Regions from separate parts of the Homo sapiens genome. Here all the other regions are reported to be linked to region 3. The links are microRNA targets in miRTarBase. Many come from high-throughput screens and were not tested one by one. Region 3 holds a microRNA gene; each other region holds the end of a gene's coding sequence. Distances are from middle to middle.
What was found. Region 3 holds the annotated microRNA hsa-miR-5697 (UCAAGUAGUUUCAUGAUAAAGG, at 3,867-3,888, shown strand). A microRNA usually pairs through its seed, bases 2 to 8, with sites in the 3' UTR of a target mRNA and lowers its output. Matches are read on the target gene's strand: a 7mer-m8 pairs with bases 2 to 8, a 7mer-A1 pairs with bases 2 to 7 and ends in A, and an 8mer does both.

Region 1: the mRNA of PLPP3 is a reported target of hsa-miR-5697. The part of its 3' UTR that is shown has no 7-base or 8-base seed match.
Region 2: miRTarBase lists FAXC as a target of hsa-miR-5697. Seed matches in the 3' UTR shown: 7mer-A1 at 3,914-3,920.
Region 4: the mRNA of EPB41L3 is a reported target of hsa-miR-5697. Seed matches in the 3' UTR shown: 7mer-A1 at 5,000-5,006.

The regions. Positions count from the first base shown.
Region 1 is chr1:56,489,085-56,497,239 of GRCh38, reverse strand. PLPP3 (phospholipid phosphatase 3) reads left to right here. Exons shown (of 6, transcript NM_003713.5): 6 at 564-2,479. The coding sequence ends at 689. Among named protein-coding and RNA genes, the nearest start is that of LINC01767, 78 kb to the right of the region's middle. RefSeq lists enhancers at 2,505-3,163, 6,344-6,843.
Region 2 is chr6:99,275,562-99,283,836 of GRCh38, forward strand. It overlaps FAXC (failed axon connections homolog, metaxin like GST domain containing), which reads right to left. Exons shown (of 6, transcript NM_032511.4): 6 at 1-5,892. The coding sequence ends at 5,603. Among named protein-coding and RNA genes, the nearest start is that of FAXC, 70 kb to the right of the region's middle.
Region 3 is chr1:9,963,524-9,971,798 of GRCh38, forward strand. It overlaps MIR5697 (microRNA 5697), which reads left to right and starts at 3,858; the gene lies at 3,858-3,935. The region is part of intron 1 of NMNAT1 (nicotinamide nucleotide adenylyltransferase 1); the gene reads left to right.
Region 4 is chr18:5,387,606-5,395,502 of GRCh38, forward strand. EPB41L3 (erythrocyte membrane protein band 4.1 like 3) reads right to left here. Exons shown (of 23, transcript NM_012307.5): 21 at 7,462-7,542; 22 at 7,072-7,188; 23 at 4,781-5,873. The coding sequence ends at 7,078. Among named protein-coding and RNA genes, the nearest start is that of ZBTB14, 96 kb to the left of the region's middle. RefSeq lists an enhancer at 7,828-7,897.

The sequences.
Region 1 (8,155 bases), 47 Mb from region 3:
GTTTAGTTGCCAACTTTCTCAGCAACGAGAACCTGGTTTCTTGACCCCCGTCAAATGGTTGATATCACTAAGTTTTCAGGAAAAAGTAGTTACCACTGCCTGACTTCAGCTCTTGCTGATAGGAGTTCATGTTGGCTGATCTTTTTCGGTTACACCCTGGATTCCTTTGTGAGGAAAGGGAAAGTAGTGTGAATTAATGACTATCACTAATTATGACCTGCTTCCTTTGTTGAGGAACTTATCTTTCATTGCTATTCGTTTGCCTTGAGAAATAAGGAAGTATGGGTTGCAGATATGGGCAATGGACTGAGAGTCCTTAGAAGTGGATTCTACTGAACCAGTGTTGTGCAACCTGGGACATGTCACTGCCTTTTCCCGGGTCTCAGTTTCCCTATCTGTACAATAAACCTTGATGATATGATCTCTGTTGTCCTTCCCTATTCAAAGAGTTATGATTTGGGGCCCCTTTTCCTGAAGTCTGCGCTCCTCTGACCTTCCTTTTCCCTCTGTACCCAGACCCCCGATGTCAGTTACTGACTTCGATCTCTGATTTGTGCTTCTAGGTTTTCTTCGTGTCTGACCTCTTCAAGACTAAGACGACGCTCTCCCTGCCTGCCCCTGCTATCCGGAAGGAAATCCTTTCACCTGTGGACATTATTGACAGGAACAATCACCACAACATGATGTAGGTGCCACCCACCTCCTGAGCTGTTTTTGTAAAATGACTGCTGACAGCAAGTTCTTGCTGCTCTCCAATCTCATCAGACAGTAGAATGTAGGGAAAAACTTTTGCCCGACTGATTTTTAAAAAGGAAAAAAAAAATGTTTTACTATGTGGCCTTCCAAAATAGGTAGTGTTTGCCTATGTGGAAACAACAGCAAACTAACACCAAGTGCCAGAGTCCTGGATGTGCAATTGGTTTAAGTGTTCATGTTCTAGTGAACACAGCTTGTTCAGGAACAAACACTAAAACGATTTGAGTAGAGGCTGCTGGTCACCTTTTGTGACCTGAGGAATCCCAGGCCTGTGAGAAAAGCAAAAATTCACATTGCAGCACATGATGCCAGAAATAGCACTGAATCAAGAAAATAGCCATTGCGGAGCTGCCCTCTTGAGTCTTTCTGTCCATCCCATTCTATTCTGTACTGTGACTTTAGTTCAGGAAGTTTTGTTTTGTGTTTTAAATAAAAGGAAAGAGCAAGTTTGCTCAGTCAAGTGATCAGATCCCGAATCTAGATTCCCAGTTCTAAGGCCTTATCACCTCCCCTGCCCATAGGCCAACAACCATAGTTCCTCACATTAGTGATTAGCAGACTCTTTGTGGACGAGTGAATTTCACAAACAGCACAATTTCAGAAGAAATCGAGGGCACAGGCCCTCACTTTTCTTCTTTTGACGCATCATCCTGTGATGTTGAAATGTCAATTGCAGGATGCTGATGTTGTGCACGTCAATCACCGGGCACTTGCATACTCTTAGAAACAGTTCGACTTCGGTTACTGCCTTCTCCCTTGAAATCCTTGCTGCGTGCCCACCAGGATTTCCTGTGAGGGCCCAGGAATGAGCAAGGCATGGTCTGCCACCAGCTGACGGAAAGCAGCCTTCTGTACAACAGATGGGAGGGTGAAGGGGGCAGAATGAAAATCGAACCAACCTTTTAGCTGTTGCAAATCAGAAGGAGCCAGAGAAGCAGGCAGTCTCATGCATGAGAGGTTACCCTTCAGGATGACAGAGCTGAGGGTCTTTGTAGGAGTTGCTCTTGCTGTGTAAAGCACTATTGTCTTGGGGTTGAGCCCTAGGGCAGTTCTTGGTAGGTTCTGCTGGGCAGAACATATGGGTTAAATCTCGGTAGAGAGTTTCCCTCATCCTCTATCCGTAAGTGTCCTTCCATGCAAGGTCCCACTCTAGGTGATAGACAGGGACCCCTTCTACTGAACCTTTGAGGAAAGGAGGAAGGAAGAAATGCGTTTAGATCTTGGATGCAGACCTTTCAAAGGGTTAAATGTAACCATATGGATCAACCACATGCACATCCTTACTACAGAATCCGTCCTTTCATTTCAACTTATAGCAAGCTATGATTTTTATATATAAATATTATATAAATAATGTATAAAACATTAAAAGTTAACTATGTAAGATATTATTTCTGAAACAATTTAGCTATATCCACTATGATTATAAACTGTGTCTCGACCTGTGTTATTTACATTAGCTGCTTAAAAAAGCATTGAGTTAATTTTTTTAAATATCAACTAAAATATCATAGTTCTGTGGTAGACATTGTTTTATAATGAAATAACTGCAACTAGAGAAAACTGTATAAAAACATTAAATTGTCAGTATTTTTGTAAGGTTCCATTTTGTAAAGAGAATAATATTCAAAGACTTTTGTAGCATACAAAGTGAAAACTTGTATCTGCGAAACTATACTTGTATTAAATGTGCTTTTTAAATAAAAGCTCGTAACACAACTAATTAAGGACTTGCAAGCCTGGAGTGTTTGAGAGATGTTTGTCTCAGGTGTGTGGGTAGGAGAAGGAAGCATCGCGGGCTGGCCTCTTTGAGTGGGCTTGCCTCATCTCAGCGCACCAACTCCTGATTTTTTTCAGTGGGAAATGTGGTGGTCATAGGGTAGATACCGATGTCTGCCCTGCTCTTTCATCTCTGAAAGCCTGTTTGCAGAATGAGGCCCTGGCTCTACCCTCATCTCAGGCTCTTCTAAAGAGCTTTTGTATTCTAAAGAGGATTTTTCCATCAGAGAGGTAGGAGCTGTAGGAACCCCGAGGGCAGATAAGCAGCCCTCACTCTAGATAAGGTATGCTGGGGGAGCTTACTGAGGGAATCCTGTACACAGCCCACATCAAAGGAAGGCTGAGAATGGCCTGTGGCTCCTGCTTCCCTTCCTTGTGTTTCTCCAACCTGGAAGAAAAGGGGAAGCTAGAAATTCACATTTATTGAGCACCTGTGTGCCAGGGATTTCTGCCTATTTGTTCTGTCTGATCTTCACAGCAGTTATTTTGAGAAAGAAAGAATACTAAAGAATGCAAAGATGAAATGATTAGTCTAAGATCCTAGAGCATTAAATTGTAGGATAGGTCTTATATTAATTTGCTATAGCGGCTATAACAAATTACCACAAACGTAAAACAGCATAGATGTATTGTCTTACAATCTTGGAGGCTCTAGGCAAGAAGCTGTTTCCTTGCCTTTTCTGTTTTTAGAGGCCACCCACTTTCCCTGGCTTGTGGCCCTCTTCATGTTCACATGGAGGAAGCAACATTGGGTAGAGTCCTCACCCTGCCATCTCTTTGGTTCTCCTCTTCTGCCACCCCTTTCACATGTAAAGGCCCTCCTTGCTGATTACACAGACCTGCTCATAATCTAGGATAATCACCTATATTAAAGTCAGTTCACTGGCAAACTTAATTCAATCTGCTGCCTTAATTCCTCTTTGCCATGGAACATATATTCACAGATGCCAGGGATCTAAGACATGGCCATATTTCGGGAACCATTATTCAGAGTACCAGAGTTCACCCTCTGGCCCTCAAAAGATTCACATCCATCCCAAATGCAAAACAGATCACCCTATCCCCACATCCCCTAAAGACCTAGGATATGGCAGTATCAAGTCAAAATCCTAAATCTTAACAACTTAAACACCCCAAATCTCATCATCTAAACTAACCCATTCAAATTAGGTAAAAAGGAGGCTCCATGTTTAATCCACCCTGGAATACATTGCTCTCTATGAACCTGTGAAAATTAAGAAACAAGTTATCTGCTCCCTAAATTCACTGGTGAAACAGGCATAGAATAACAGTTATAGACATTCCTATTTAAAAAGGGAGAGAAGCCAGGCGTGATGTTTCACTCCTGTAATCCCAGCACTTTGGGAGGCCGAGGCAGGCGGACCACGAGTTCAGGAGATTGAGATCATCCTGGCTAACATGGTGAAACCCCATCTCTACTAAAAATACAAAAAAATTAGCCGGGCGTGGTGGTGGGCGCCTATAGTCCCAGCTACTTGGGAGGCTGAGGCAGGAGAATGGCGTGAACCCGGGAGGGGGAGCTTGCAGTTAGCCGAGATCCCGCCACTGCACTCCAGCCTGGGCGACAGAGTGACACTGTCTCAAAAAAAAAAAAAAAAGGAGAGAGAGAGAGAAATAGACGGAAAAAAGAAGTCATCAGTCCCCAGCAACTTCAAAATCCAGCAGGGACCAGGCATGATGGCTCACTCATGCCTGTAATCCCAGCACTTTGGGAGGCCGAGGCAGGCAGATCACTTGAGGTCAGGAGTTCAAGACCAGCCTGGCCAACGTGGTGAAATCTCATCTACTAAAAATACAAAAGATTAGCTGGGTGTGGTGGCACACTCCTGTAATCCCAGCTACTCTGGAGGCTGAGGCAGGAGAATCACTTGAACCCAGGAGGCAGAGGTTGCACTGAGCCGAGATTGCACCACTGCACTCCAGCCTGGGCAGTGGAGTGAGACTCTGTCTAAAAAAAAAAAAGGAAAGAAAAATCCAGCCAGGGATGCTCCATTTGGCTTCAAGGCCTGGAAATAGACCCAAGTGGCTCATGTCTGGTTTCTTGCCACCAAGGTCAGCCTGCTCTTTGCTGCTGGACAATGCAGTCCCCTCCAGCCCCTGGAATAGCTCAGCAATTTCACAGCATTTTTATATAAGTGGTGATGTCCGTTTGAGCCCCAAAATGTAGCTAGTAAGATCCTTAAGGCCAGAGGCCAAATTTTCACTTCAAATCTGAAGAACCAGTGTCCAGAGGGGCAGAACAACTCTTGTTGGTGGGGGTAGGAGAGGGAAGGCACCCAGGGAGTGGAGGGACTGGTGAGACCAGAGCCCAAGCCTCCTGATCCGAGTACCCCAGTCTTTCCATTTTATCTTCCAACAGTACTTGACAAACCAAACTTGAGAAGTAGCCCCGTTTCATGCGGACTTAAGGAAACAATGGAGCTGCGTGGTATTGTGAGGAGCAGCATGATGTGGAGAAGGAAACAAGGACCTGGGGACTCAGACCCAGGTTGCAGTCTTGGCTCTGACACTTCCTGGCTATGTGATGTGACTTTGGACACGTTTCTTAACCTCTCTGAGCCTTGGGTTATTGCTCGTTAAAGATGAGATTTACAAGATCTGTTTTTATACCTCTTTGCTCATGGCAGTCTGTGAGCCTTGACTTGCTTCTTTAAATGGGGTTCACGGACTAACAACATTTGTATCCCTGGGGAGCTTGGTAGAAATATAGACCTAGGAGAACCCCTGCCCCACCCCAACCTACAGAATCAGAATCTTCCTTTGGGTAGGATCCCCAGGTGATCTACATGCACAATAAGGTTTGAGAAATACCCCCACTCTTTGCTCATTAAACCTGCAGACTCTGTTCAGGTGTGCTTCCCCCAAGCCACACTCCTCCGGGGCTTGGCTCGGAGCATGCTGGGTGCAGACATCGGTAACCTCTTAGCTTAATGTACCAAAATTGCATGCATAAAGATCTGTATCAAGACTGTCAGATTCTCAGGGGCAGAAGCAAGTCTTATCCTCTGCAAATCCTGCATGTCTGCCTGGCACTGAATAGTTCCCGGCAATTTTGAACCAATTAATCATCACCCGGGTCAAAAAGTCACATGATTCTTGGTAACCATCCAATTAAACAGGCTGCAGGGACATAGAGAATTGCAAAACATTGACCCTGTCCTTAGGAATTAATGAGGACTTAAATTTCCTCTGAGGTAGAGATGGAAAAAAACAAAAACTTTAACAGCTAGAAATCTGCATAAGATTCCTGCCAGTTAGAATAAATTCGTACATTCATTCGTTGATTCCAAAGTATTTCCAAAGAACTGTTTATGTGCAAAATCCTGACGCAGGTACTTTCATGCAGTCTGCTTCATTTAAATCTTCAAAAACCACTGTTAAAGTAGATAGGATTGGGGGGAAATGAAGAGAAGTTGGTTGATAGGTAAAAAAATACAATTGATAGAAGGAGTAAGTTCTAATATTGGATAGTATATTAGAGAAATTGTAGTTAACAATAATTTATTGTGTATTTCAAAATAACTAGAAGAGAAGAATTGCAATGTTCCCAACATAAAGAAAAGATAAATGTTTTAGATGATGGATATCCCCATTACCCTGATTTGATCATTGTATATCACACACATGTATCAAAGTATCACATGTACTCCAAATGTTTGTACAACTATGATATATCAATAAAAAAATACAGAATAAAAAATGTAGCTATGAATAGTCTCATTTTACTGAGTGAGAAACTGAAGCTGTTAAGAATCTTGTTTCAGTTCACACATCTAATATGGGATAGATCTGGGATTCTGATCTAAATGACTTCAATTATCCATTGACTAATATTTATTAATCACTTCCTGTGTACCAGGCACTGGTAAACACCAGAAGTAAAACAGTAGATAAAATGGGATGCCAGCTTCGAGGAGCTTATAGTCTAAAGACGAATACAAACAGTCAAATTACAAATATGTAACTAAGAAATGGGATGAGTGTTCTGAAGAAAGAATGCAGGAGGAGCTATGAGAGCTCTCAGCAGGAGGACCTGCTATTGAGGAGGGCTTCCCTGAGACCCACCTAGAGCTAAAGTCTGGTTAGGGCACTGACCCAACAAAATGAATGAAAAGAGCCCGGCCTTTCAGGAGCCGAGAGCCTAGAATGTAGGTCTAGTAAATAATGAGTAAATAATCCCAGTAGTGTGATGGGGAGGAGGGGCCTTTATGAAGTGCTGTGACATGGAAGGAATCAGAAAGACCTGGACCTGGCCGGGCACAATGGCTCATGCCTGTAATCCCAGCACTTTGGGAGGCCCAGGCGGGCGGATCACGAGGTCAGGAGATCGAGACCATCCTGGCTAACACGGTGAAACCTCGTCTCTACTAAAAATACAAAAAATTAGCCAGGCATGATGGCGGGCGCCTGTAGTCCCAGCTACTGGGGAGGCTGAGGTAGGAGAATGGCGTGAACCTAGGAGGCGGAGCTTGCAGTGAGCCGAAATCGCACCACTGCACTCCAGCCTGGACAACAGAACAAGATACTGTCTCAAAATAAAAAAAAAAGAAAAGAAAAGAAAGACCTGGATCTGCTCCCTACCCTGTGACCCTGTGTAAGCATCCCTTCTAGAACATCTGACTCTGACAAGAAATGTCAAGTTTGTTTGTTTGTTTTTGCATAAACCCCTCTGATATGGTTTGGCTGTGTCCCCACCCAAATCTCATCTTGAATTCCCACGTGTTGTGGGAGGAAGCCGGTGGGAAGTGATTGAATTATAGGGGCGGGTCTTTCCTGCACTGTTCTCGTGGTAGTGAATACGTCTCACGAGATCAGATGGTTTTAAAAAGGGGAGTTTCCCTGTACAAGCCCTGTTCTCTTGTCTGCTGCCATGTGAGATGTTCCTTTCACCTTTCGCCATGATTGTGAGGCCTCCCCAGACATGTGGAACTGTAAGTCCCATAAACCTCTTTCTTTTATAAATTGTCCCGTCTCAGATAGGTCTTTATCAGCAGCATGAAAATGGGCTAATACAGTAAATTGGCACCAGTAGAGTGGGGTGCTGCTGATCCAGGCCTCCTGCTTTTTTATTTTTTTGAGACAGATTCTTGCTCTGTCACCCAGGCTGGAGTACAGTGGTGCAATCTCATCTCACTGCCACTTCCACCTCCCAGGTTCAAGCAATTCTCCTGCCTCAGCCTCCCTAGTAGCTGAGATTACAGGCACGTGCCACCACGCCCAGCTAATTTTTTGTATTTTAATAGAGACAGGATTTCACCATGTTGGCCAGGCTGGTCTCGAACTCGTGACCTCAGGTGATCCACCCACCTCAGCCTCTCTAAGTCTTCTAAAAGAAAACAACAAATGAGTGAATTATCAGAGATAAATATTAGTATCAGGGAGGCTTTGGTGGTATTCTTTTGATTCTCAAACTGTGTAAATAATAAGAACAAGAGAGACAACCTATTTTTAAAACTTCATAACAGGATATACAAGTGGGAGATAAACATATAAAAGCATGCTCAACTTTTTAGTCATGGGAAAATGCAAATTAAAATTACAATGAAATATCATTGCATATCTATGATATTCTTGTCTAAAGTCAAAAAACAGAAAACAA
Region 2 (8,275 bases), not on the chromosome of region 3:
AGTTCCTTGCTTCGGCGAAAGCAGAATGGTTGAGGAGGTCACCCTGTCAGCTCCAAAACAGCTGAACCCCTTTTTTTTAAATCTATGCTTCAGTGCCCTCTGTAATCATCTCTAACTGGCAAGGCTAACGTTGCTGGTTCCAGCAGTCTCATCTCAAAGATTAAGGAAACTTAAATATCCTTAAGATATTCTTGAAAGTCAGGGACCAAAAATCTGAGTTTCTGGGTAAGGAATTCAGATGAGGAAAACATGCCACAGATGTTCGCATCCACGCCTGACAGTAGCAAGAGTCTTACAGGTAAGAGGCCCGTCCCTCCTCACCCAACAAGGGAATCCTTTTGAACTTCCCAAGTTATATCCAGACCACTGGAAGCAACTGAATAAAGGTCAAGCACTTCACAATCACATGCAATTGATCCCTGGACCTGTTAAAGATGGGTTCCCAGAGCCCAGCATTTAGCCTGGGAAGTATTCGTCATTGAGTGTACTTTTATCAGTTCTAGTTTGACTTAAATAGCACTGCATATAAAGGAGAACAAAGGATCCTGGGTCATAGTCAGGAACAATAAAATAACATACTCTGTTTAAAAAAAAAAAAAACCCTAAAAGAAAGAAAGAAGAATAACCTGAGTTGTTCCCTATCAACAAAAGCCACCAACCTTTTATTGAAAATACACTCAACAATTGTTCTATGAATGAATGAATAAATGAATACAGGAAAACCTGATTGTGCAGACCTTTCTTCTTTAAGGAAGAAAAATCCAGCCTCTTCTCTCCCACCTTCAGCCCAGGCTGGTTGCCCTATCCATGCAGAAGCGGTGGGTTTCAGGGCTGAAAGGAAGCGCACTTGGCCCTGAACTCATTTTGATAAATCAATTTTGGGGGTGGTTAAAAGATAAATGACAAGGACAACAACAAAATCCTATGACTTTCAAAATTCCAAACCTCTAAAACAAAATTTTCTCAAATAACCTAAGAGCACTTCTTTCTTCTTTTCTGTCACTCAAGACATACTGAACATGGATAATAGAGATTACTTTTGCTTGCATAGCCTGTACTAATTTTTCTTCTCTCTGGCTGTGTTAAAAACAAGAACAAACACAATGATAACATTTAAAGACTCTTGGGAACAAGACTCTTTAACTGGGGTCCATTAACCCCCTGAGGAAACCATGGATAATTTCAGGAGGTCTCTAAATTTCCTGAATTTATATGTAACATTTTATGTATTTGCATATATGTGTTTTTCTGGGAATAGGGTATAGAACTTTCGTTGGATTATCAGTGGAGTTCCTGACAAACAAAAAGTGAAAATTCACTATTTAATGGTATGTGACTCACTCTCTGAGCATCTTTCCCATGCAACCTTCAGGGAAGGAAGTGATGAGTGCTTCATTTTCAAAGGAAGAGATTATAATCAGCTGGGAAGCCTTCATGTGAAGCTGACGAAGTCAGACCTTGAGAGATGGGCATGACTTGGGCCAGTGGAGCAGAGAATAGAACATTTCAGGAGAAGGACTGGCATGAGCAGAGGCACAGAGGTGGGCCACATGAGGCTTTTTTAGGCAATGGCAAATGGATCAACCTGGCTGCACTGGATGGCTCCCATGGAGGAGCTATGGAGACAAGGTGAACAAAGGTGAAAACACCAGACCCTAAGGAGTAGCCCCTCACCCTGAGGCAATGCCACACCCCATCAGGGCCAAAGAGCTTTTTAGAAAGATTAATCCATTTGTAGTGGATGGAATGGAACAGGGAAATGGCCAAGTACGTAAAAGAGGCTAGAGAAGTCTAGGCAAAAGAGGATGCCCTGAAATCAGAGTTCTATGCTGTTCTATTTGCCACTCTACAACCAGTGTAGATCCCAGGGCCAGGCACAGGGTAGGTGCTCTGTAAATATTCAGCAAGTGAGGGAATGGACATGGGTTCTTTAAAAGATACATAAGGAAGTATGAGGAGTCTTGGTGATTTGGGAATCCATCTTGCTATTCTTCAGAGTCTAGCAATACCCTGCACTGATGAGAGGTCTCTTGTATTGGTCTTGACCAGGCTGACAGGACATGGACAAAAGCGAAGTAGGATTCCAACCAGGGAATGGCTGGAGATGTGCTGGTTGTCTGAACACAGGGTGACTTCTCAGGTAACATGCATTTTATAAGACAACAAAGCCACAGTGGTATAATGGAAAGAACCATCAAGGGCAAGGTGGTATAATAGAAAGAAACCATCAAGGGCAACGTGGTGTAATGGAAAGAACCATATTGACCTCAGTTTTTGGTCCTGCCCTTCAAATAAGTATGTATGTGACACTGAGCCAATAAGGTGCTTTCTACAGCTAATTTTTAGCACAGCTATACATTTCTATGACTCTACATTATCTCTCAAACAAATCTAAGCAAGACCCACAAGGCCAAAATCCTTAGTATGTCTGTTCCTTGAACCTTAGCTATTTCACAAAAATATACCCTAACACCACAGTATACATGGGCAGGGCTCACTTGAGGAGTAGACTGCAGTCTGATTCAAGTCCAAGTTGTTCCAGGTCCGTGATTAGTCTCCTGGGTAGCCCACAGCCTTGGTAGTGTCACTTTCTACAATTCATTATGTAACAACAACAAATTGGTAAATGCTGACAATATAGTTCATCATTGCATAAATATAGATTGTCCTTATATCTGTTCTGATGGAGAGTAAAGCTCAATGATTCTGCTCATTAATCTTGTTGAGTGGGGGTACAGATGGGCAAAGAGAGGTGGATGCAAGAGCTTGATTTACTTTTACAATGACAGGAAAAAAAGAACGAATAGCCTATGGGTCTGTTGTCCAACCAAAAGCATCTGTTAACATTAAAGATCACATACTTCAAGTTACCTTCCAGCAAAAAGGAAACACAGAACTTGAACAAGAAGCCAGATGACCAAAATGTCCCTTAACTTCTTATAGTTTTTTCCTATAATTAGCACCTGTTCATGAAATTGGAGAACATTTCAAATCTGGGTAGCTTAAGAATGAAGCACATAAAATTAAATCCTTCCGGATAAAGACTCACACTATGGTGACTTTGTCTTGGTTATTTTGTTTGCATAACCCGCCTTGGGAAAGTAAAGCAGGGGCATATTCTAGGGCTCTAAATCAAATTAACACCTACAAAATGTTGATGCCCAGTTATATGCTGTCAGGCAATTGCCCAAGACTCCAGATAGCAATGTCCATTCATGCCCCTGTAAGAGGTACCTGGATGGAATGACTTATTTTACAACTTCATTTTCAAAGTTGGTTCTCCACATACTTGTATTCCAAGTAATATAAAATTAAAAACATATATTAATCTACATTCTCATAACTTAATCATCCTTTGAGAGAAAATACATCACACTTGGTACTGTACAGTAAGATAGATTGTTCATAGAAAAAAATTCAAATACATTTCTTTTCTACTAAAATGTGGTGGGAAAAGGACAACCCATGCTTTGTGGAGACAGGTCTGCAGTCCACCTGTTCATTATATTCATATTTTCAGTCCAGGAGTCTCCCTAGTCACACAGAAATGCCACCAGTTGGCCTTAAAACACACTTGCTAGAGAGAGGGGAGGCAAACAGTCCTCCCAAATGATGCTGCAGCCTCAAACAGGCTTATCCATTCATATCTTCTCCACCACATTCTTATTAGGCATCAAACAGTCCCTTTAAATAAGAATGGTTTTAATAAGATATTAACAACTAAGTTTCCCATGGAATAAGAATTTCTAACTTAGGGTATCTCAGCACGTATTCCCAGTTACATATGCCCTACACAATTGCTTAAGTGGTAAGCAGTCTGAAAAACTCTCCTCCCTTTACCTCTTTGTGAATCTACAGCAGTCTTTTAAGATTGTTTTGCAAATGCTATATTCAAAAAGAGGTTTTTTTTTTTTCAAGTAAAGTGCATGGATTTCTCAGAAGTTGCTGTATTTTAAGAAGTGCCTCTTTAACCCCATAATGAGCAATCCTTATGTTGGTCAGAAGCAAAGCAGTTTTGTTTGCAATTGTAAATCTTGGCTCTCCTAGCCCAAATCTCACAGCCATCACCCAGGATCTCTGCCCCATATTTCCCTGGAAAATGTCCTAAGTCAAAACAACAACAACAACAACAACTTCATCTTTAGAAATAGGGTGCCTTCACAAATATGGGTAAGCCAACAGTTCATCGAATACTATAGGGAAAGAGAGAGAGAACGGGGATGAGACAGCAAAAACATTAAGACTTGTTCTCAGCATTGCTCTCCTCTCACTGGGCAGTGGCTGAAAACACCAGAAAAGTTGCATTAATAAAACTGCATATAGTCTAACACTGCACAGAGTGCTTTGATACAAGTATCCTCTTGCTACTTCATCTTTTCAATACATCTTTGCAAGGTTTGTTTTCAAAAAGACATTACAAGTTGGCAGGCTTCTGCTTATAAAAATCAATGAAATACTTTCCCTTCAACTCTATGAAACCTGCCATATACCTGAGATTTATTCTTCTCAAATAAATCAAACATAGGCAACGTAACACTCTGGAGTCAACACAGAACATGCCAGGGTGAGTTCAGGCAATGAAAGAACCACTTTTCTGCAAATACATGGTAGAATTGAAGACTGTTTGTAGCTGTCGATAATTTGTAAAAACATTTCCAATGTTCTTTGAACAAAAGATTTTGATTCAGCCAAGATTACAGAAAGGAATCATGACAAAGTCCTAAGTGTACCTTTGTGTGTATTTCATCTGCTCAGCTTTTGCAGGTGACTGTGGTGGTGGTTGCCTGGATATGGAATTCCTTTGCCCTCAAATCTTCACATGCATGAAGTGCAATAAAGAATAAAATGCTGTGTTTATGTCGCACCACTTCTAAGAGGTTTAAAGCGCCGTACGAATGTTACCACATGAATCCCCACAACACCCCTGTGAGGTAGGTAGGTGGAGAGTATTGTCATCCCCACTTTACAGGTGGGAGAAATGAGGCACCCAATAGTTAATAAGAGATTTGCTCAAAATCACACAGCTAGTCACTGGCAGGGCTTAGAATAAAATGTATACTGATTAGCACCTAGCACAGTGCTTTGCACATAGTAGGTGTTCGTTTAATATCTGTGGATTTTATTTGACTTATGTCTCAACATACAATATACACACATAAAGTACAAGCAGCCACCGTAAAACATTTTTCTGATGATATCTCTCATTACTTCAAATCCTGGTGGAGGAAGGAGGTTCAAGAATCCATCTCACAATTAAGACCTCAGGGTTGAAGAGGATCATCATAAAAACTATCAGCTGACAACCAGCTCTTACACCTGCTCTACCACACAATATTATTAATAGTTTTCTAATGAAAACAAAAATGGATTTCAGGAACCATGCTGACATTATTTTTTGCCTGTTTGTTTTCAATGGAGTCATCTGAATGGTTCTGTGTTTTGTTTGTACAAAAAAGAAATAAGGCTGCTATAGTCCAGTTAGCATGTGAAAACTCTGCCAAGCACGAAGATCTCCTCCCAGCTCGGATGGATTGCTACCTGGGAAAATGGACCGACCCAGGGAGTGGCAGGTCCCAAGGAAGAGGGTCAGTGAGGCTGGACGTCACTTGCACTGTTCGTGGTCTGTATAGTCATCCATGTCCACATCCGAATCAAAGAGTGAGTGTCCAGTAAAATCTGTGTCTGGGGTTCTGGAAAAACTGTTTTCTGCTCCCTCATCTTCAAAGGTCTCTGTCCTTGAGTAAAAGCTAAAATCCAGCAGCGGGGTGTGGGTTTTGCTGCCTTCGCTGCTCTCCTCAGACTCATAGATGGTATTGTCATCATCGTGGTGCCACTCTGGCCAAAATTTCCTCCTTATCCTCTCACAGTACATGGCAAGGTTGATCAGCTCACCTGCAGTGTGGTAAGGAAAGCAAGGATTAGTTCTCAAAGGCAGCAGTCTACCACTTCTATGGTCTGTGTTGCCCCAAAACTCCAATGTTGAAATCCTGACTCCCAATGTGATGGTCTAAGGAGGTGGGGCCTTTAAGAGGTGGTTCGTTCATGAGGCCCAAGCCCTCATTCGTGGTACTAGTACCTCATAACAGAGGCCTGAGAGAGCTGCCTTCCCCCTTTTACCATGTGAGGACACAGCAAGACAGCACTGTGTCCAGGAAGCAGGAAGTGGTCCCTCCCCCAGGCAGGCCCTCGCCAGATCCTGAATGGGCCAGAGTCGTGATCCTGCATTTCCCACCATGATCCTGCATTTCCCAGACTTTTCCAGACTCCACAACTGTGAGAAATACATTCCTCTTGTTTACCAGCAAACAAGTTTATGGCATTTTGCAACAGCGGCCCAAACTATGACATCCAGCCACTAGGCTTTCTGGGAAACTGGAATAACGGGGAAGGTAAACATTAACAGTATTTTTCCATAGAGATACTGTGAAAATATTTAGGTTTTTATGCACATAATAAAAACGGTGAGTGAGAAAAGTTACATTCAGTGAGTGTGCTGAATGAAATGAAGAAGTGAGTCCGATGATGATGAGAAGTGGCAAGGTAGTTTATCCAAAATGGCAGATAAACTACCATCATTTGGCTTTAGGAAGCATTTTATTATTTTATGTTTACATATCAAGAGAGCTAATGCTGTGATTGGTTCATATATAAATTAATTTATATTCCATAAAAATACGTCAAACTGTTGGTTGCATTAAGTCAGCCAGAAGTAATCATTTACTCCACAAATTTTCGCAGTGTTGCTGTGGGCTGAGTACCATGCCAAGCAGCTGAAAAAAGTTATGTTAGGACATAAACCTTTCCCCCCAAAAAATCCATAAAATGGATAACTCAGAATTGTCTTTATGGATAAGTGTGCCTGCAAACACACTTAGTATAAGATATTTTTAAATTTTTACATGAAATTGAACAGCGGTACTCAGGATCCGGGTCCCACTCGGTCACTAGATTACTTCTTTTTTATGTGAATCAAAAGAACTCTTGTGTTAAGTCACTATTACTGTCTAGGCATTTGTCTGAAACATGCCACTCTACCTGGCCTTCATTTCCTAATTCCAAATGAAAAAGAAAGAGGGTGAGTTTCTCCCTGTGATCCAGCAGATGGCAACATTGCTTATAAATATATGATTTGCTACTATCTCTTATAGGACATTATTACTCTAAGAATGTCTTTGGATTTGAGTTATATAAACATTCACTTATTGTGTAAACAATCCATGTTTTAGTGCAGAAAATTAGAAAAAACAGATAAGCAAAAAATAAAAGCATTACCAATAATCGCATTCCCCATAACATTTTCATTTATGTTCTTCCAGAAAGGTACATATTTACATATACATTTACATATATTTACATGTGCTATATAGGATTTACTATATATTCTTTTTCCTATCCTATGTTTTTCCACTTAACAACGTATAATAAAAATCTTTGAATGTCACACTCTGATCACAGTGATAAGTGCACACTATGTTATATGGCTGTACCATAGCTTCAGTTTGTCTTTATGAATCCCCTATCACAGGTCGTTTAGGTTGTTTCCATATTAATGGTTCTGTTGATTATAGTCTGTCACTACTCTATCTTATTTTTCTGTTAAGGAAAATAACATATTCTCATTTTGGAAAATTAGAATTAGTCTGTATAGACAAACTGTACAAATACATAAAGAAGAAAACAAAAAGTACCCATGATTTCATCGATCCAAGATAATCACAATTAACATTTTGGTGTAACTTCTTTCAGTATTTTTTCTATTTACCTATTGCCATTATTATTACATATTATCTCCTGTAACATTATTGTAAACATTTTCTCATGTTAAAATTTTTCAAAACTTGATTGCTGTTTTACTTACATCCCCTGCAAAACATAACAAAGCAAATCCCCCTGCTTCATGGATCCCATGGACATGTACTGGCTCCAGGTCACCATTTCCAGTCTTCTCAAATTATAACAGCTCAACCCCCACTATGTAAAAATCTATTCTCTTCTAGAAGATATCTGTGCACATGCTCAGGAGCCAGAAACTGAGAAGTCAACACCATTGCTCCTTTTGAGGAGATGCAGCATGGAAAACCTTCACTTACTTTCTCCCTTATGGGGACAGTCATGAAACGCCTCACCAGGTATTGCTGCCAATCCCAGGGGACCAAGAATTGAATAAAGATGTGAGGGCAGCAGCAAGAGAAAAAAAAAATATCTAATTGGGGAGGTAAAGAGACATCAAAGATGAAATACAGTCACTTCACAGTAGGACCTGGGGACAGCCCTG
Region 3 (8,275 bases):
CTCAGCCTCCCGAGTACCTGGGATTACAGGCGCACACCACCACGCCCAGCGAATTTTTGTATTTTTTAGTAGAGACGGTTTCACCATGTTGGCCAGGCTGGTCTCGAACTTCTGACCTCGTGATCCGCCCACCTCAGCCTCCCAAAGTGCTGGGATTACAGGCGTGAGCCACCGCATCTGGCCCCCATTATTTCTTTTTTGAGATGTTTGTAATAGTGAAAAATTAGAAAAACCTAAATATCCAAAGGTCGAAGATTAACTGGAAAAACTGAATTAACTATAGATTATCATTTGGAACATGCTAATTGCTTTTGGCCAAGTTATTTTTTTGCAGTGAGAATCAAATGACAATGTGTATGAATTTTATTTTATTTTATTTTATTTTTGAGACAGAGTCTCACCCTATCACTCAGGCTGGAGTGCTGAGGCGTGATCTCAGCTCACTGCAACCTCTGCCTCCTGGGTTCAAGTAATTCTTGTGCCTCAGCCTCCCAAGTAGCTGGGATTACAGGCACCAGCCACCACACCTGGCTAATTTTTATACTTTTGGTAGGGATGGGATTTCACCATGTTGGCCAGGCTGGTCTCAAACTCCTGGCCTCAAGTGACCCACCTACCTCGGCCTCCCAAAGTGCAGGGATTACAGGTGTGAGCTACCACACCGGGCCGAAAGTATTTTTATAAAGCCAGGTGTGGTGGTTCACACCTGTAATCCCAGCACTTTGAGAAGTGTAGGTGGGAGGATCACTTGAGCCCTTGGTCTTGAAATCCTGGGCTCAAGCAATCCTCCCACCTCCACTTCCCAAAGTGGGAAGCAGAGCCTGGGCAACAAAATGAGACTCCTTCTCTACAAAAAAATAGAAAGATAAGCTGGGTGTGGTGATGTGTGCCTGCAGTCCCAGCTACACGAGTAGCTGAGGCAGGAGGATCCTTGAGCCCAGGAGATCGTGGCTGCAGTGAGCCATGTTCAAGCTAAACCTCCCAGCTTTCCCAGCCTGGGTGACAGAACAAGACCCCGTCTCAAAAAGAAAAAATAAAAGTATTCTATACTTTTGTTTTTGTAAACCAAAAGTAGCATATAACTATTGATGTGTTTATTGTCATTTGCTATATTTCTATGTTAATTATAAAAATGCTTCAAGCGGCCAGGCACGGTGGCTCATGCCTCTAATTCCAGCATTTTGGGAAGCCGAGGCAGGCGGATCATGAGGTCAGGAGATCAAGACCATCCTGGGCTAACACGGTGAAACCCCATCTCTACTAAAAATACAAAAAATTGGCCAGCATGGTGACGCACACCTGTAGTCCCAGCTACTCGGGAGGCTGAGGCAGGAGAATCACTTGAGCCAGGGAGGTAGAGGTTGCAGTGAGCCAAGATTGTGCCACTGCACTCCAACCTGGGCGACAAAAAAAAAAAAAAAAAAAAGCTTCAAGCTCTACAAAAAATTCCCCAAAGTTTTGAAAATACTTTGAGCAAGATTATGTCACTGGAATTATATTTATAAGATCTCAGGGCCAGGTGTGTTGGCTCATGCCTGTAATTCCAGCACTTTGGGAGGCCGAGGCGGGTGGATCACCAGGTCAAGAGATCAAGACCATCCTGGCGAACATGGTGAAACCCTGTCTCTACTAAAAATACAAAAATTAGCTGGGTGTGGTGGCGTGGGCCTGTAGTCCCAGATGCTCAGGAGGCTGAGGCAGGAGAATCGCTTGAACCCAGGAGGCGGAGGTTGCAGTGAGCTGAGATTGTGCCACTGCACTCCAGCTTGGCAACAGAGCGAGACTCCATCTCAAAAAAAAAAAAAAAAAAAGATCTCAGAATGATTATTTTTAAGACATTCTTTGGATATATAAGAATATTTATTACTTTTTAATTTTTATATTATTGTTGTTATTTTGAGACAGAGTCTCGCTCTGTCACCCAGGCTGGAGTGCAGTGGTGCAGTCTCGGCTCACTGCAACCCCTGCCTGCCAGGTTCAAGTGATTCTCCTGCCTCAGCCTCCCAAGTACCTGGGATTACATGTGTGCGCCACCACACTCGCTAATTTTTGTATTTTTGGTAGAGATGGGGTTTCACCATGTTGGTCAAGCTGGTCTTGAACTCCTGACCTCAAGCGATCTCTCTGCTTTGACCTCCCAAAGTGCTGGGATTACAGGTGTGAGCAACCGCACCTGGCCAAGAATATTTATTTTGAAGTCCAAGCACAGTAGCTCATGCCTGTAATCCCTTTGAGAGGCTGAGGCAGGAGGCCAGGAATCTGAGACCCACCTTGACAACATAGTGAGACCCTGTCTCTGCAAAAGATTTAAAAAATATAGCCAGGTGTGGTGGCATGTGCTTGTGGTCCCAGCTACTTGGAGGCTGAGGCAGGAAGATCATTTGAGCCTAGGAGGCAGAGGCTGCAGTGACCTGTGATCATGCCATTGGACTCCAGCCTGGGCAACACACCGAGATCCTTTCTCAAAAAAAAAAATTTTATTCAGAAGTATTTGGCTGGGCACGGTGGCTCACGCCTGTAATCTCAACACTTCGGGAGGCTGAAGCAGTCAGATCACTTGAGGTTAGGAGTTTGAGACCAGCCTGGCCAACATGGTGAAACCCCGTCTCTACCAAAAATACGAAAATTAGCCAGGCATGGTGGGGCATGCCTGTAGTCCCAGCTACTTGGGAGGCTGAGGCAGGAGAATCACTGTAACCTGGGAGGCAGAGGCTGCAGTGAGCTGAGATCGTGCCACTGCACTCCACCGTGGGCAACAGAGGGAGACTCCATCTCAAAACAGAAAGAAATTATTTATAAATATTATTGACCGGGCGCGGTGGCTCACGCCTGTAATCCCAACGCTGTGGGAGGCTGAGGCAGGCAGATCACCTGAGGTCAGGAGTTCAAGACCAGCCTAGCCAACATGGTGAAACCCCATCTCTACTAAAAATACAAAAATTAGCTGGGCATGGTGGCAGGCACCTGTATTCTTAGCTACTCAGGAGGCTGAGGCAGGAGAATCGCTTGAACCCAGGAGATGGAAATTGCAGTGAGCCAAGATTTTGCCACTGCACTCCAGCCTGAGCAGCAGAGTGAGACTTAGTCTCAAAAAAAAAAGTATGTATATATAATTATATACAAATATTTATTTGAAAACCTTTACAATAGCAAAGTTATTTTTTTAACTTGTTGAAAACTAGTAGGCAGCATTTAAAAGGTTCTGTACAATGAATGAAAAAGATACTGTCATCACTGGGCATTCCAGAGTACTAGGGATAAGATAATATACTACACATCTTCTAGAAAGTAAAAGCAGGTTACACATAAAGGAACAAGGATTAGAATGACCTCAGACTTTCAACAGCAATGTTGAATGCCAGCAAACAATGAAGAAGTGCCTTTATAATCTTAAAAGAATAATTTCAAAAATTATTTGGGCTGGGCACAGTGGCTCGAGCCTGTAATCCCAACACTTTAAAAGGCCGTGGCGGGCAGATCACCTGAGGTCAGGAGTTCAAGACCAACCTGGCCAAAGTGGTGAAACCCTGTGTCTACTAAAAATACAAAAATTAGCTGGGCATGTTGGCAGGCATCTATAATCCCAGCTACTCAGGAGGGTGAGGCAGGAGAATTGCTTAAACCTGGGAGGCAGAGGTTGCAGTGAGCCAAGATCTTTCCACTGCACTCCAGCCTGGGTGACAGAGTGAAACTAAGTCCCCCCGGCTCCCCGCAAAAAAAAAATTATTTGAAATTATTGAGTTGAAAAGAATTTTCTCAAGCCATTAATAATTGAAGGAAGAATAACAACATCGTCGAACTTACTTGATCTCCCATGCGCCTATCAAACTTACTTGATCTCCCACGAATCCTACTGGAGCATATTCTCAAGTAGTTTCATGATAAAGGGTGTATGAGAGATCAACCCTTTATCATGAAACGCTTGAGGATACGCTCCAGAAAGATTAGAAAGCAAAGCGAGAAATAAATAGGGGATCTAACCCAGGAAAGAGATGAAGAAGTTTTCAGAATAATAGCTTCACAAATAGAGATTTTTCATCTGGATAAGAGGAGGAGAGTTCCAGAAAGAAAATCCTCTGGGAAAAAAACAGATTGAATAGAATAGCAATTGTAAATTAAACCATTTGAAATTGATGTTTTGTTGATTAAAAAAAAAATTGCTTGCTGAGCACAGTGGCTCATACCTGTAAGCCCAGCACTTTGGAATTGGCCAAAGTGGACAGGTTCGCTTCGAGATTCTGAGCCCAGGAGTTTGAGACCAGCCTGGGCAATATGGCAAAACCCCATCTCTACAAAAAATACAAAAAAACAATTAGCCAGTGCATGCCTGTAGTCCCAGCTGCTTGGGAGGCTGAGGTCGAAGGATCACTTGAGCCTGGGAGATGGAGGTTGCAGTGAGCTGAGATTGTACCACTGTACTCCAGCCTGGACAACAGAGTGAGATACTGTCTCAAAAATCAAAAAACAAAAGACAATTCTAGTAACATAATTTGCAACATTCATAATAGCTATATTCATAGCATGTTTGCTATTTGCCAAATGTAGTTTTTTTTTTTGTTTTTTTTTGAGATGGAGTCTCGCTCTGTTGCCCAGGCTGGAGTGCAGTGGCACGATCTTGGCTTGCTGCAAGCTCCGCCTCCTGGGTTCACGCCGTTCTCCTGCCTCAGCCTCCCGAGTAGCTGGGACTACAGGTGCCCGCCACCACGCCTGGCTAATTTTTTTGTGTTTTTAGTAGAGATGGGGTTTCACCATGTTAGCCAGGGTGGTCTCGATCTCCTGACCTCGTGATCTGCCCATCTTGGCCTCCCAAAGTGCTGGGATTACAGGCGTGAGCCGCCGCGCCTGGCCTGCCAAATGTAGTTCTATGTCTTGGATCTGTATTGTTTCATTTAATCCTCACAACAATCAGGAGGTAGGTAGTATTATTTTCTCCTTTTTAAGATTGATTAAAAACTGGGACAAGGTGGGCACTGTGGCTCATGCCTGTAATGCCAATACTCTGGGAGGCCGAGGCAGGTGGATCACTTAAGGTCAGGAGATCAAGACCATCCTGGCTAACATGGTGAAACCCCGTCTGTACTAAAAATACAAAAAATAATTAGCCAGGAGTGGTGGCGGGCACCTATAGTCCCAGCTACTCGGGAGGCTGAGGCAGGAGAATGGCATGAACCCAGTAGGCGGAGCTTGCAGTGAGTCGAGATCATGCCACTGCACTCCAGCCTGGGCGACAGGGCGAGACTCTGTCTCAAAAAAAAAAAAAAAAAAATTAGCCAGGTGTGGTGGCACGTGCCTGTAATCCCAGCTACTTGGGAGGCTGAAGCAGGGAGGATTGCTTGAACCTGGAAGGCAGAGGTTGCAGTGAGCTGAGATCGTACCACTGCACCCCAGCCTGGGTGACAGAGCGAGACTCTGTCTCAAAAAAAAAAAAAAAAAGCCAAAGAAAAAACCTGGCACAAAAGGAAGGTTAAGTTAGGGTTAGGTTGCCCAAGGTCATGCCGTTGGAGCTGCAATTTGAAGCCAGGCAGCCTAATATCAGAGCATAGGCTCTTAACTCTTCTGTTATATAGGCGGGAAATTGTAGGATACTTTCTTGTAGAGTCTGACTAATCCAAGCAAAAAGACCTGCGGTACTGACAGGTTACTGAACAGTTATGGCCCCTGTGCACAAGCCCTACCTACCCACTCAGCCTGTCCCATCAGCTCTTTTTGAAGAAACTTTAAAATATATCATGAATATTGGTAGAGAAATAGAGATGATAATCTGTTGGGGAAATGAGTAGAATACCATAAACAGGAGTATTCAGAGGATAGGGCTCTTGGAAATTAAGAGTGTAATGGCAGAAGTGAAAACTAGGCAGATTGGAGGATGAAGTTGAGGCTATCAGGAAATTAGAGCATGAAGGCAGGAGGTGGAAAATACAGAAAAAATGATTAGATGCTTCAGCTCTAAATAATAGACATTTTCAGGCCAGGCACAGTGGTTCATGGGCGGCTGAGGTGGGTGGATCACTTGAGGCCAGGAGTTCGAGACCAGCCTAGCTAACATGGTGAAACCCATCTCTACTAAAAATTCAAAAGTTATCTGGGTGTGGTGGTGCATGCCTGTAGTCCCAGCTACTTGGGAGGCTGAGGCAGGAGAATTGCTTGAACCTGGGAGGTGGAGGTTGCAGTGAGCTGAGATCGTGCCACTGCACTCCAGCCTGGGTGAGAGAGGGAGACTCTGTCTCAAAAAAATAAATAAATAATAGACATTTCAAAAGAACAGATAAAATGGGAGGCAGAAAATCATCAATGAAAGAACTCAAGGACATTTTCTAGAACTGAATGTTACAAGTTTCCAGACTGAAAGGACCTGCTTGCCCTGTGCTCAGCATGATGGATAGAAACAAAGCTGCACTAGAGGACAGCACTGTGAAATTTCAGAACACTGCGGACAAAGAGAAGACCTTACATGCTTCAAGACAGGAAAAAAATGACATTCAAAAGCTCCGGAATTAGAAGTGGCTTTGGATTTCATGCTATTAACATTGGAATCTAGAAGTAATGCCTTTGAAGTTGTGAGAGAAGATGATTTTCAACATAGTCTGGAGATAAACTATATTGGGCAGTTTGGGAGAAGGTAGTCAAAGGGTATGAGGGCTAATCTTTATAGATCATAAAGTCAATGGGCACTGTTATAGTTGGATAAATTAAGAAATGGCATTATAAGCACATAATGTAGAGTTATGGTAGAAACTACCAGAAGAAATAGCTGAAAAAGTTAAAAGTGGTTGGATGGAAGGGATGATGAGTGGAATATGATTGATGGCTGTTGGTTTTCATTAAGGGCCTTTTTTACCCTGTGATGTTCTAGATCTATATATATGAATTAGTTGAATAAGAAATTTTAGGCCAGGCGCAGTGGCTCACGCCTGTAATCCCAGCACTTTGGGAAGCTGAGGCAGGCGGATCACAAGGTCAGGAGATGAAGACCATCTAACATGATGAAACCCCGTCTCTACTAAAAATACAAAAAATTAGGCAGGTGTGGTGGCAGGCACCTGTAATCCCAGCTACTCGGGAGGCTGAGGCAGAAGAATGGTGTGAACCTGGGAGGCGGAGCTTGCAGTGAGCTGAGATCGCGCCAATGCACTCCAGCCTGGGCAACAGAGTGAGACTCCCGTCTCAAAAAAAAAAAAAAGAAATTTTAATAAAAACCTAAAATTGGATGCCTTATGTTACTTCATTAGGGTTATGGAAGGATCAGTGGAATAACTGATATGAAAAAGAGGTTTGTAAATTATATTCTATTATTTAGTGGAAAGTTATGATGTTACTATCATGTTGACTAAAAGGCAAAAATGCTGTATTTGGTAGATGATAATATTGTTGTATTAATTAACTGTGGCCACAATAGTGCAATCACAAAACTTGAGTGACATATGATAATGAACACTAATTTTTTGTTTTTGAGACTAGGGTCAGCTTGTTGGCTTGACGATCTGAGCCAGGTTTGGTTGATCTCACTTGGGTTTGCTTATGTGTCTGAGCAGATGGACTGTAGTTGGCTGGTCGGGGATGGCTATGTTCCCCACATGTGGGGTGGTTGTCTATCAGTGGGAGCATCGGTGCTCTCCCACATGTTCTGGCATCCTCCACACTAACACTTGTGCCACATTCTTTTGCCCAAAGCAAGTCAAAAAATGTGGAGAAGTCACTTCCATCTCTTCATGGTAGAAGTTGCAGATTCACATTGAAAAGGAGGGATGGAGATGTGGAAACATTTTTAGAGTTAGCATAATGATTGAAGCCAATTTTTTTTTTCTTTTTGAGATGGAGTCTCTCTCTGTCGCCAGGCTGGAGTGCAGTGGCACAGTCTCGGCTCACTGCAACCTCCGCCTCCTGGGTTCAAGTGATTCTCCTGCCTCAGCCTCCCAAGTAGCTGGGATTACAGGTGCCTGTCACCACACCCAGCTAATTTTTGTATTTTTTGTAAAGACGAGGTTTTACCATGTTGGCCAGGATGGTCTTGATCTCTTGACCTCATGATCCACCCGCCCCAGCCTCCCAAAGTGCTGGGATTACATGTGTGAGCCACCACGCCCAGCCAAAGCCAAATACTTTTAATCCATCTATTGGGAATGAGAATGTGGAAGGACATCAAAAGACCTATAACTGGGCTGGGCGTGGTGACTCATGCTTGTAATCCCAGCACTTTGAGAGACTGAGGTGGAAGGGTTGCTTGAGACCAGTAGTCTGAGAGCAGCCTGGGCAACATAGCAAGACCCCCATCTCT
Region 4 (7,897 bases), not on the chromosome of region 3:
TGCCTGGCCAACATTATAAAACCCTGTGTCTACTAAAAATACAAAAATTAGCTGGTGTGGTGGTGCGCACCTGTAATCCCAGCTACTTGAGAGGCTGTGGCAGGAAAATCACTTGAACCCAGGAGGTGGAGGTTGCAGTGAGCCGAGATCGTGCCACTGCACTCCAGCCTGGACAACAGTGAGACTCCATCTCAAAACCAACAAAACAAAAAAAACTTAATTCTCTGTTATGGCTGAATAAGATTCCATTGCGTGTATATATCTCAGTTTGTTTAGCCATTCATCTGTTGGGCTGTTTTCACCATTTACTGTAAATAATGCTGCTATGACCATTGGTATATCTCATGTTAATACAAGTATAAAGTTCATCTTGTATAATGTGGCAGAAAGAAAGGTGGGATACAGGATATGTAGTTTTAATGTTGTTGTTGTTGTTGTTTTGAGACGGAGTCTTGCTTTGTCGCCCAGGCTGGAGTGCAGTGGTGCGATCTCGGCTCACTGCAAGCTCCGCCTCCCAGGTTCACGCCATTCTCCTGCCTCAGCCTCCCGAGTAGCTGGGACTACAGGTGCCCGCCACCATGCCCGGCTAATTTTTTTGTATTTTTAGTAGAGACGGGGTTTCACTGTGTTAGCCAGGATAGTCTCGGTCTCCTGACCTCGTGACCTGCCTGCCTCGGCCTCCCAAAGTGCTGGGATTACAGGCGTGAGCCACCGCACCTGGCCGATACGTAGTTTTAACTCAAGTTTAGGAGTTCAGAATTGAGCCTTAGGGAATGAGTGAGGGATATCCCCAAAGGATTTTTTAGTTGTGTCATGATGGCACCTTTAAGAATGACAAATGAGCAGCCTAAAGAACTTGGGGTGTGGGGAGCAGGGGGCATTGGGGTGGGGTGGTAGTAGTAGATGAATGGAACCTAGAGACCAGTTAGCAGCTGATCAACAGTCCAGGTGAGAGATATGAGGGCTTAAAGTAGGATGGTAAAGGAAGGTTACATGTAATGGATCTTTCACACTGCAAAGGAAATAAAGGAGTTGAAACTAACCCCAGGGTTTTAAGCCTGTATTACTTACTCTCTTACCTCTGCTATGCCAAGACTGAATAATTAATGAACTTGAGAAAGAAAGATATTATGAAGTGGTTAAGACTTCCATTATCTACAAATGGTGTATCTAGTGAAATTTACTATTCGACTCTTTGAAATAGGGCAACTCCAGCTTCCAAGACCACTTTCAAATATACTTAAAGTTTAGAGCTCAACAATAACAGACCTTGACCGGATGTCAACTGAACTGAGGCTGACATCAGTACATGTGAAATAATGTGTAACCCCTTCTAATCAGAGAGCTGAACCCAACCCGTCATATCTAATGAATGGCAGATCTCTGGGAGAGACCATCATTTGCTGAGGGGGTGATTCCCAGTGACTGACTCAATGACAATGGCATAATCATGAGAGCTGTTGAGGGACCTGAAATAGGAACTGTTTCCATGGGGAGCCACTCCCCCACACTTGCTGGGCTTCAGAGAAAACTCGGAAAAAAACTGATGTTTCAAATTTATCTTAGCAAAGTAACCTTTATCAATGTGTTCATTCATTCATACAAATATTGAGCACCACTTATGGAGGCACTATGCTTGGATGTGGGCCATCTGTGAGACCCATGGCACGCAGAAGAGATTCATTCAAAGAATTGGGCAGATAAATAAAAATGACAATCATGAAATTTTCTACTAAAAATGTTGCTTTGAGAGTGTATAATAGGGAAAGCTGATCTGTAAAATCAGGAAGGGAACATTTGAGCTCAAACCTATAACAAAATTTGGGGCCCAGTAAAACAGGGCTGAGAATAGTTCCAGCACTTCACCAGTGTGGTGGAGGCGGACAGGGATCACAGAGTAAGCAGACACACTGTTGCATCTGTGGCTGGAGAAGTAGGTGGGGAGCAGCCAGTCCATGCAAGGCTTCGGGCCAGGTTAGAAGAATTGAAGCCTTTCTTGGCAAAGAATTTATGGCTAAGTCCTCAAAAGCAATTGCCACAAAAACAAATATTGGCAAGTTGGACCTAATTAAAGACCTTCTGCACAGCAAAAGAAACTACCAACAGAGTAAACAGGCAATCTACAGAATGGGAGAAAATATTCACAGACTATGCATCTGACAAAGGACTAATGTCCAGAATCTATAAAGAACTTAAATAAACCCACAAGCAAAAAATAACCCCATTAAGAAGTGGGCAAAGGACATGAACAGACAATTCTCAAAAGAAGACATACAAGTGGCTAATAAACGTATGAAAAAATTCTCAACATCACTAGTCATCAGAGAAATGCAAATCAAAACCATAATGAGATACCACCTCACACCATTCAGAATGGCTATTAAAAAGTAAAAAAAAAAAAAAAAAAAAAAAAAAAAAAAAAAAAAAAAAGGTCAGGCGCAGTGGCTCACTCTTGTAATCTCAGCACTTTGGGAGGCCAAGGCAGCCGGGTCACCTGAGGTCAGGAGTTCGAGACCAGCCTGGCCAATGTGGTGGAACCCCGTCTCTACTAAAAATACAAAAATTAGCCCAGCATGAGTGGTACGCACCTGTAATCCCAGCTACTCAGAAACCTGAGGCAGGAGACTTACTTGAACCCGGGAGGCAGACGTTGCAGTGAGCCGAGATGGTGCCACTGCACTCCAGCTTGGGTGACAGTGTAAGACTCCGTCTCAAAACAAACAAACAAAAACAAAACAAAACAAAAACCAGAATCGTGGTGGGCTGTGGAGAAAAGGGAACACTTATACACTGTTGGTGGGAAGGTAAATTAGTTCAGTCACTGTAGAAAGCAGTTTGCAGATTTCTCAAAGAACTAAAAATAGAACTACCATTCAACCCAACAATCCCATTCCTGGGTATATGCCCAAAGGAATATAAATCATTCTACCATAAAGACCCATGCATGCATACGTTCATCACAGCACTATTCACAATTGTAAAGACATGGTATCAACCCAGGTGTGTCTACCCATGGTGGATTGGATAGAAAATGTGCTGCATACACACCATGGAATACTACACAGCCATAAAAAAGAACAAAATCACATCTTGTGCAGCAACATGGATGCAGCTGGAGGCCATTATTGTTAAGCGAGCTAATACAGATTCAGAAAACCAAATGCTGCATGTTCTCATGTATAAGTGGGAACTAAACATTAGGCACACGTGGACACAAAGATGGGAACAATAGACACTGCAGACTACGAGATGGGGGAGGCAGGCAAGGGTTGAAAAACTGTCTATTGGGTACTATGCTCGTTACCTAGGTGCTGGGTTAAATCATACCCCAAACCTCAGCATCATGCAATATACCCATGCAACAAACTTGCCCATGTGCCCTCTGAATCTAAAAGTTGAAGAAAAAAAAATTAAGGTCTTTATACTACAAGCGATAGAAAGCCAAAAACACATTTTAAGCACAAGGATGAGAAGATTACATTTGTATTTCTTGAAAGATTGCAAGCTACAGTGTAAGGGACTGAAGTGATGTGAGAACATGAGTCAGTGAGCTACTGGAATAATCTAGGTACACTGCCTTGGCTAGATTAAAGAGACTGTGAAGAAATGTTATTGGCAGGCTGGGAAAATGATGGGCAAGAAAGACACTGGTGCCCAAGTCTCCCAGGTTTCTGACTCATGTAATAGGATGAACAGAACACCCATATGAATGTTGTTTTTATTCATAGCTACTTCTTTGTAAGGTTTATTCTTAGAATTGACCTCTTGTTATCAAGTTAGATGTCTTTTAGTGTCCCTGAAATTTTGTGGCATTAAACCACATGACGGTGTTCTGTACCAGCAACAGTGGAGTGATGTCGAGATAGGGCACGACAAAGCCCCTCGGAGCCAGTCTTTCTGCTGTCCCATCCCCATTTCCTGAGCAGAGCATATGCGTGCATGCATGCGTGTGTTAATAGCCACACTCATGGGGGAGGATCAGGTCCTTCTGTCACCCTCCTTCAGAGCTTACACAGCTCTGATAAGAAACTATTTGTCAAAACAAATGTCATTTCTGAGAACACAATTTTACATGCACCGATGGCCTGTCACAATTTTTTTTTTTTTAAATGGAACAGTCCAATTTTACTTCATGAGTAAATGCCCATTAAAATACAGGGCCACCTCTATGGCAACCCAAGGCAGAAACTTCCATACCGGTTAATTTGAAGCAGTAAGAAAGACTAAAAAAAAAAAAAAAAAAAAAAAAAAAAGCACTTAATGGAAGGAACGTGTAACACTCATTTGTAAGTTAGAAGCAACTTCAAATTCACACTCCAGACTCCATGTTGATTTTTTAAAACAACTAGGGTCGACATTGACTTAACAGAGCAATGGATGTGCTGGGAAGAGATGGATATAACGAAGGAAATGGATGACGGGGACAGTGATTGTTAAAACAGGTCATGAGATTGCAGGCTGAGCAACCCTGTTTCATAGCACAGCCTTGTCTCTTATTAAAAAAAAAACCTAAAACTTTGAGGATGAGATTCAATGATGTATTTTTTAAAGCCTTCTTAGGCAACCAAATATTTAAATATATCTGCTTTGTTCCCATCTTCAATCCCTCAAAGGGTACAGACACTGCATACTGTATACTCTGTGGGGTTTTTTTTTTTCAATCTTGTAAAGACAGGATATCTCTACCGTGCAGCTGAATAAGGCCTTTGATGTCATGCAAATATTACTTCTGGACTAAACACATACAATACTGAAATTATTAAACATACAAACTTAGAGCTTTCAGTGCATTTGCCATTTTTATTTCGCTATGCAGAAACATACATTCACCATGGGCTGTGATGCAGGTGATCGTGTAATGGAGAATCTCTCTTTTTGAAGGCTATTTATAACTAACACTAAATAGTTTTAATTACAGTGGAAATTCTGTACAGTTTAAGGCTTGGCTCTGAACTAGAATGTAAATATGGACCAGATTTGAAAATAAAACACTTTCTTTTCAAGTAAAAGAAGAAAAATCAATTAAAAAATACACGGCACGGAAAAAGTAACTAAGAAAACAAAGCCACAGGAAGCCCAGCAGTTTCTCCTGAAGTGAAATTTCATAATATTGTAAACTAACAAAAATACAGGTTTTCTTCCCAAAATAATGACAATTTAAGCTCTCTGGATTGAACACAGACCAAAGCAAACAACAAGGAAGAAATCGCATTAATATGCTAAAATCAGTACTACCTTATAACAAATTAAATGAGATACACAAAGCAAGATTGGAAGCATTACATATTTCCAGAGGGTCAGAGAGTCATTACTGTTTATGGGTGAGAGTAATAAAACCAGATGAAACAAGTACAAGTTGTTTACTGAATAAACTTGGTTATTGGCACATCTAATCTGAGGAAAATCTGACACACCGGACGGACCTAGACAGCTTCTAGCATTTGAGGGTAATCTTCATTTATTGTAAATATAAGGTTACCTAAGAAATTGCAATTTTGTTTAGACTTTAATAATAATAAACTATGAAAGGCATGAATTGTTTATGTGTTACATGAGACCACGGTTTATATTGTTGGTTATGAACGTGCAGGTATAGCTGAAAACTGAGACATTTTGTGAAAATTAAAAATGCTGCTCTTTTGTAATTTTATCGTTGCTTCATGCATTATCGGTTTAGTGATGCTGAATCAGATTGCTTTATTATGGGAAGATCTCTCTGCCAGTGTCTTTATTAATGGTCAAGGTCAATTCTTCTGGACTGAAATTTTCCACGGACAGATACAAGTCAGTTGGGTTAGAAGAGGGAACTCCATATAGGCTCTGGTTTTCCTAACGGTTTGCATGACTGCATTCATGTGCAAGCTAAGTTATTCCTGCAAAAAAGACATTTGATTAGTTACTCATTTGAAAACAACTGAAAGATTTTCTCAGATCAAGGACACAAAAAAAGTATCCTGGAAGTTAGAATGCTCGTTTGGACAAGATGCCATGACATTCCAGCGTTAAGTCACTGCCAATTACATGCTTTCTCTTAAGTAATTACAACAACGCCCAAGTGGCTGAAGCTCATGGAAGAAATCTGTTTTATTTTTTTTGCTATCGTCCAAAATATATTATTCATTTGAGTAAAATGAGTATTTTTTATATTTCTCTTTTAAGAGATGCCACTCATCAATTTGTTTCTTAAACCGATGTTAGAAAACTTACTAATATATGAAATCTCTTAAACATTTTATCACATCACCAAGTTGTGCAAGTCGCTCGACTGCTGCATTCAGCATTCAAAGCCCTCTCAGAAACGCTCATGGCCCCATGAGATCTTGCATGGCAGGTGACTATGCATGACAAGTCTGTGCTCACATAGATGATATAGTCTGCTCATGATGCTGGCCAAACAGTCACTGGAAAGGTATGTGCTTTCTACAGGACCACAAGACTGCATTTTTTTTGCCTCCTTCTGAGACAGTGCTACGCTAGGGAGAAAAATCATCCCAAAGAATACAGGAAATATAAGACATCCAAAAAGAAAGTGAGTGCTCAGCTTTCAAATTAAAAAAACAAAACTAAAGACAAAAGCATAAACAGGTTACAATCAAACACAGTTGAAGAGAAAGCTTACGACGGGATAATGTTGCCATCAGAAGGAGAAAGGGGTATATATTATTTCCCTAGTATTTGGAACACACAAATTGAGCCTCTCAGAGCAAAACTGCCTTTGTTCCAATTAGGCCACATGGCAAGTAAAATCAAATTTGCCATTACAAATTTGGATAATCAAAGAGTGCAGGCCATGGAATAAAAGGGAACACCAGGAAGACCACACAAGCATAGAAGCATAGACTCTGCTCTTCCTTTATCCTCTAACTGGCAGTGCATGCAAAAACTCCACAAGAATGGAAGCTCCAAATGTGAGACAAACCCATAAACCAATTCTCCATCCTCTTGGTAACCAGCCCAACAAATGCCAGTGAGAGAACAGAGGAAAGGAGGGATCAGGTGAAGGATGAGAGGGAAGTGCCCCATGCCTCATGCCAGCCTAGGCAAGCCTAGAGAATCGGCATCACCTCTTACCTCTGGTCAATCCTCTCCATCTTCTGGTGTGATCTCTGTCTCTTTATGGACCACTACTTTGGTCACTGACATGTCAGGGTGCTGCTCTTTGGCCTCTTTAATTGCCTGAGCCAGCGCCTATCCCCGGGAAATCACAGAAGGGCAGAAACAAAAAGGAGGTGGAACATGCATGATCAGTGGTGAGGTGGAGACTTATGAGCTAGATCTATATCCACAATTTACAAATGAGGTACAATGATTACAAAAGGAATCATAAATCATATATTGGAAAGTTAATTCGGAATTTTCTTCGGAATACATGCTGGACTAGAGGAATAGCATTGAAACTGTAGGACCAACAGGTTTTTCTTTGTTTCTCTGCCAGGGTATTTACCGTCTCACACACACTACCTGGTCATGGTCAATGTCTGCATCCCCCGTGATGACTATTCGCTTCTCAATTCTTGTCTCTGAAATGCCCCCTTTCACAGTCTGCAAGACACGTAGAGAAGCTTTATGAATTTACTCACTGGGAGAAACCATCATGGTTCAGTAGGGGGAAATGGCCGAAGATGCTGACATCATTCACTCTTCGAGAATTGAAATTAGAGTTCTATGGCACTTATTTCACATTTTTAATTCCAGAGGTGAGGACGGAATGGAGGCCCTTGGGTCTGGATGGCCCATGTTTCTGGAACACTACCACATGCCAAGCACTGGAGTAAGCATTAAGCTTAGGATATCAGAATGTATATTCCTAAAGGGGAACTCGCACGTGAGGACAAGTGCATCGTAAATCTAGGGGCTGTAAAAGCTCCCCTTGCAGCTATCCCGGCGTCCTGAGCTT